2 separate regions of the Homo sapiens genome follow, and region 1 is linked to region 2. Evidence: fine-mapped QTL for protein levels in blood plasma. A gene starts in region 2. The other region holds a variant in brackets. All regions are shown on one strand. Distances are from middle to middle. Region 1 has its middle 32 kb from the start of CRISP2. Region 2 holds the start of CRISP2 (cysteine rich secretory protein 2).

What was found. PIP is the chance, under the fine-mapping model, that this variant and not a neighbour inherited with it causes the effect. Protein levels are from antibody-based Olink assays in UK Biobank. Linkage for the fine-mapping came from a reference panel and not from the study's own genotypes, which makes the PIPs less certain.
Region 1: its variant is fine-mapped to the plasma level of the CRISP2 protein (UK Biobank, PIP above 0.99).

What each region holds. Positions count from the first base shown.
Region 1 is chr6:49,679,929-49,682,858 of GRCh38, reverse strand. It overlaps a transcript of CRISP2 not described here. Among named protein-coding and RNA genes, the nearest start is that of CRISP2, 32 kb to the left of the region's middle. The variant T/A (reference allele first, on the strand shown) is at 1,465.
Region 2 is chr6:49,712,164-49,715,093 of GRCh38, reverse strand. It overlaps CRISP2 (cysteine rich secretory protein 2), which reads left to right and starts at 1,551. Exons shown (of 10, transcript NM_003296.4): 1 at 1,551-1,619; 2 at 2,490-2,593.

The DNA.
Region 1 (2,930 bases), 32 kb after region 2:
AAGAAAAGAAGGGAGGAAGGGAGGAAGGGATGGAGGGAAGGAGGGAAAGGAGGAAGAGAAGGAGAGAGGGCAGGAATGAGGGAAGGGAGGGAGGAAGGAAGGAAAAAGAAGGAAGAAAAAAGAAAGAAAAAGAAAGAGAAAAAGAAAGAGAAAAAAGAAAAAGAAAGAGAAAGAGACAGAAAGAGAGAGAAGAAAGAAAGAAAAGAAAGAAAGAAGAAAGAAAGAAAGAAAGAAAGAAAGAAAGAAAGAAAGAAAGAAAGAAAGAAAGAAAAAGAAAGAAAGAAAAAGAAAGAAAGAGAAAGATGGAGGGAAGGAGGGAGGTGGGAAGGAAGGAGAAGGAGGAAGAGGAGGAACAGGAGGAATAGGAGGAGGAGGAGGGAGGGAGGGAGGGATGGGGAAGAAGGAAGGAAGAAAGGGAAAGAGAGAAAGAAAATAAATAGATAACTAGAGTATGTTATATGGTTGCTAGAACTAAATCAGGTGTTCAGTTTGGACATGTTGAAAGTGTAGGCATAGAGAAGACAGTTGAATATATAAGGAGGGATTTAGTCTAAAATGGAGATAAAGATTTGAAAATCATCTTTGTATAGACGGCACCTAAAGCCACAATACCACCTGAGATTCCTGGGAAGTAAGTGAAACAATATGCTAAATCCCAGAATTTAAAAAAGTTTGTGAAAATAAGAGCAAAGGTCCACCAAAAGTGTCAAAAACAAGAAGATGAGGAAAGGATGAAATAGTATAGTATAGATGCCAGAGAGACAGATGATTATTTAACTTTTATTTTTTATTACTTTATTTCACGGAGATGGATCTTTAAACTCTACAGCCTGGCACAATTATCTGAAGGAGAAAAAGAATGATCTAACCTGTGAGGACATAGTAAATAATTATTTAAATGCTTGGGGGATATTAAAAAACATTTCAAGGTGATCATGAGATCACTGTCAGTTAACAAGGAATAATGACAAGGAGGAAAGCAACATATTGATTAACATATGACAAATGGAAAGGGCAAAAAAAAATCTTGAAGCTGGGCATGGTGGTGTGCACTTGGAATCCAAGCTACTTAGGAGGCTGAGATAGGAGGATTGCTTGAACTCAGTAGTTTGAGGCCAGCCTGGGAAAAAAATAAAAGAAAACTTTGGCATTAATCTATGAGAAATTCCTCCAATTTAAAGTGATTTCATCATTTTTAAACCATGATATTATATGTAAAACAGTAAAATATAATTTTTAAATTTGCTACACTAAATTTGTTTCTTTTTGATAGTTTATAAATATAAATCAAAATTGATTCTGTTTTATAAATCTATATGTTATTGCCCACATTTAATCTAAAGTTTCAGCAGAATTCATTAAGTACTTTGTTCAAATGTGGGTCTATATACTAATATTATTATGGATATCTTAATCTAGTTGAAAAAATGCTTAATCTAGTTGAAAAATTACTACAGGGCTTAG[T/A]AACCAAAACAGCATGATACTGGTAAGTACAAAAACAGATAAACAGACCAGTGGAACAGAATAGAGAACCCAGAATTAAGACAGCACACCTACAACTATCTGATCTCTGAGAAATCTGACAAAAACAAGCAATGGGGAAAGGACTCCCTATTCAATAAATGGTGCTGGGGTAACTGACTAACCACATGTAGAAGATTAAAACTGGACCCCTTCATTAGACCATATATAAAAATTAACTCAAGATGGATTAAACACTTAAATGTAAAACCCAAAACTATAAAAACTCTGGAAGACAACTTAGGAAATACCATTTAGGGCATAGGCATGGGCAAAGATTTCATAATGAAGATGCCAAAAGCAATTGCAACAAAAACATAAATTAACAAATGGGATCTGATTAAACTAAAGAGTTTCTGTACAGCATAAGAAATTATCAACAATTAAACAGACAACCTACATAATGGGTGACAATTTTTGCAAACTATGCATCTGACAAAGGTCTAATATCTAGCATCTACAGGAAACTTAAATTTACAAGAAAAAATAAAACCTCATTAAAAAGTGGGAAAAGGATATGAACAGACACTTTTCAAAAGAAGACATTCATGCAACCAACAATCATACCAAAAAAGTTCAACATCACGGATCATTAGAGAAATGCAAATCAAAACCACAATGAGAGACCGTCTCACACCAGTCAGAATAGCTGTTATTAAAAAGTCAAAAAATAACAGATGTTGGCAAGGTTGTGGAGAAAAGGAATGCTTATACACTGTTGGTGAGAGTGTAAATTAGTTCAGCCATTGTAGATGACAGTGTGGCAATTCCTCAAAGACCTAAAGTCATAAATACCATTCAACTCAGCAATCCCATTACTGGGTATATACCCAAAGGAATATGAGTTGTTCTATCATAAAGACACGTGCACATATATGTTAATTGCAGCACTATTCACAATAGCAAAGACATGGAATCAACCTAAATGCCCATCAATGATAGACTGGAAAAAAGAAAATGTGGTACATATACACCATAGAATATTATGCAGCCATAAAAAAGAATGAGATCATGTCCTATGCAGGAACATGGATAGAGCTGGAGGCCATTATCATTAGGAAACTAACACAGAAACAGAAAACCAAACACCACATATTCTCACTTATAAGTGGGAGCTAAATGATGAGAACTCATGGACACATACAGGGGAACAACACACACTGGAACTTATCAGAGGGTGGAGGATGCAGGAGGGAGAGGATCAGGAAAAATAACTGATGGATACTAGGCCTAATACCTGGGTGATGAAATAATCTGTACAACAAACTGCTATGATACAACTTTACCTATGTAACAAACCTGCACATATACCCTTAATTTAAAATAAAAGTCGGCTGGGTGCAGTGGCTCACACCTGTAATCCCAGCACTTTGGAAGGCCACAGCTGGTGGATCACCTGAGGTCAGGAG
Region 2 (2,930 bases):
GTACTATGAGTCTTAGAAGAAAGAGATTTTATGTCCTTTTTTCTGTATTTTCTAAGAATCTATGTCGGGTCAATATTTACTCACTTAACAAATATTTACAAACTACCACCTATATTTGGTATTGTGTTAGTTTTGGAGATACAGCAATAATCAAGACAGACATAGCCAATTTCTGAAATTCAGGTTCACCAACAATATCTGGCACCACAGCGCTCAAGTTGCTCTCATTCTGATATCATCAATGTGAATATGGGAACAAGTAATAATTACAGGAATGACTCTTCTCCAAAAATGAAAAATAAGATATTCACAGTAAATGATAGACTATTATAGTGCTGAGAATGAATTGTTCGGCACTAGAAAGAAAGAACAAATAGGTAGGCAGAGATTTTGTGCATATAGGTATTTGAAATGTCCAATTAATAACTTAAGCAAGATATGGTGAAAACATGAATATAGAAGTGAGGGACAGATTGAGGACTAGATTTCATAAATATTTAGAAAGGCAAACTGTCAGTAATGAATTTTGATATTGGATGTAGATATAAGCGTTAAGCAGTCTAAATTCCAAAATTTTTAGTCAGTGCTGCATGAACTGAAATAAGCAGCAAAAGAAAACTAAAACAATGTCTGTGTGCTGATCCCTTGAAATTACCTTGTAACACTGCCAAAGGAAAATGGCACTGAGCACCAAGTTTGTTATAGTTTCAGTTGTGCCCAAGTGAGTCTCCAGAGTTGGTGAAATCTCAAGCCTCTTATTGCATGGCTTACAGAGAACCAAGGTATGACGGATATTAATCCTTGGCTTGACATCTTTTGACCCATCTCTCTTCCTCTAGGTCATAAGCGAATTCACTCCTTTTCGCTTTGAAAACAACTGTGAATAGAAGAAAATGCACCTATTACTCATCCGCCTTCTGAGAGAGAAAACATGTCTTTAACCCATGCTTGATACGTATGCTAAACTTGCAGCCAGTAGCCTTGGGTCAGGAGTTCTGCGTATTTTCATAAGAGTTGTTCCTGTTACTCTTCGTGAATTTTCTCACCATAAAACTGTTGCCAACGGGGAAGAGGGACAAGAACATGAAGTGTTTATGAGGGAGCCTGAAACTGACAACCTGTGTAACTGGAGTGCGTCGTTGGCATGACACTGGCAGCGCACTGCAAACTTAAGCACCTGTGGACTCCTAATTAGCTCTTTAAATTGAACTACATTAATTCAGGCATTCTTGTTTGAATGCGAACGCCTCCTTTTTCAAGCCACCCCCTGGGCAACCCGAATCCTTATATGACCTCCCTCCTCCTCCTAGTACGGCGCAGGTATGCGAACAGACATTTTCTTTCCTCATCAACTGGTGGTAATGAGAAAAAGAGAACTCTGCTTTTCACAAGGGAAAACGTGCAAGATTTTCTCCGTAGTAGGGGAGGCGGGGGCGATGGGAGGAGAGCAGCTCACGTAGGCAGATAGCGGCGATGAAAGCATAAAGCCCAGTGACGTCGCCCACACGTGGCGCCTGGCAAGTGAACAATCGCGGTGAGAGGGGCGCGCCGCAGCTCCTCAACGCCGCAACGCGCCGGCCCAACTGCAGGAAGGTCTGTGCTCTGGAGCCAGGGTAAATGTAAGACCCGGATTGGAGACTAGAAATGGCTAGGGACGGGGAGGTGGGGTGAAGCACAGGGGAGAGAACCATCGTTGAGGTGAGGGGGTTTCTGATCCTCCTTCGCTCCTCTTCCGGCATCTGGAGGGCACATAGCTAATGCCGGGCAGACTGAGAGTTCAATTTTGTTGCTTAGCGCCGACCTACCATAACTTTCAACATGCTTCTCTATGTTTAGTCTATTGAAACTCTTTACCTACCTTAAAAGAGAAATCATTCTAAGTACATAAGACCCATTGAATCATAGTAGAAGCCTGAAGTCATTTCTCAATCTGCTTTTTACGAAGTCAAATTAAGACTCTTAGTTTCTAATTGATGTTTTGAATGTACAGTTATTAGAAACTGTAATAACAATTAGAGTTGGGGTCATTGACTCTGCTGGACTTTATATCATCTATTGGCTTCCAGAATTTAAAAAAAAAATGAAGAGACAAAGCTGTTACCCCCAAATCCACGTAGTTAATACTTACCATGTGGGACACTGCTTATGGAAATGATCTTTTAAAGAATGGGTTGAAGTCCTAGATAAGGGGTTGGGAGTCTTGAAAAAAGGTTGCAATTTTCCAAGCAAGTTAGCCAACTAGTAGTTACTGAACTTCAAGAAGTCCACTTTTTTGTTAGTGTTTGAAGGAAATATCAGGGCGTTGAAATACAATCTGACCTCAGAAGGACAATATGGTCTTAACGCTGAAATCAAATAAATACAGTAAATTATTAGAAACAATACTAAACAATTGAGTCAAAATTTAAGTTTGTGACAAAGATTATAGATACCATCTATAAGGGTATTCTTCACATCTTTATTTTAAATATTTTGTTTCCTTGTTCTAGGGTTATAAAATTATACACCATGGCCCTCCTAAAGACACTCTAGGAAAACCATGTCATCCTGATCTTAAAACACCTGCAAGAAAGAGCACAGTACTTCACCATTAGTAAGTAGCAAAGAAAAAAAATGGTAGCCAACTTTTCAACTATATATCAATATGGGTTTAAAGGAATAAAATGTAATTATATGGAATAGAAAAAAATATTTTTCCTTGAATATACTCTCACCAACAGTGACATTGCTTTCATTGACTCAATGAAGATGAGTATAGGTTAGATGGTTGAGGTTATGAGAGAGAAGAGCAGCAAAGAGGAGAGTATGGCATCATGGCCTATTATAGAATTCTGGCTCATCAGATGCATACACTGGGTGATTGAGCTATACAAAACTCTTCAGGCTCCTGTGTATGGCTTTCAATGAGCTGATGAGGATACAACAGCCCA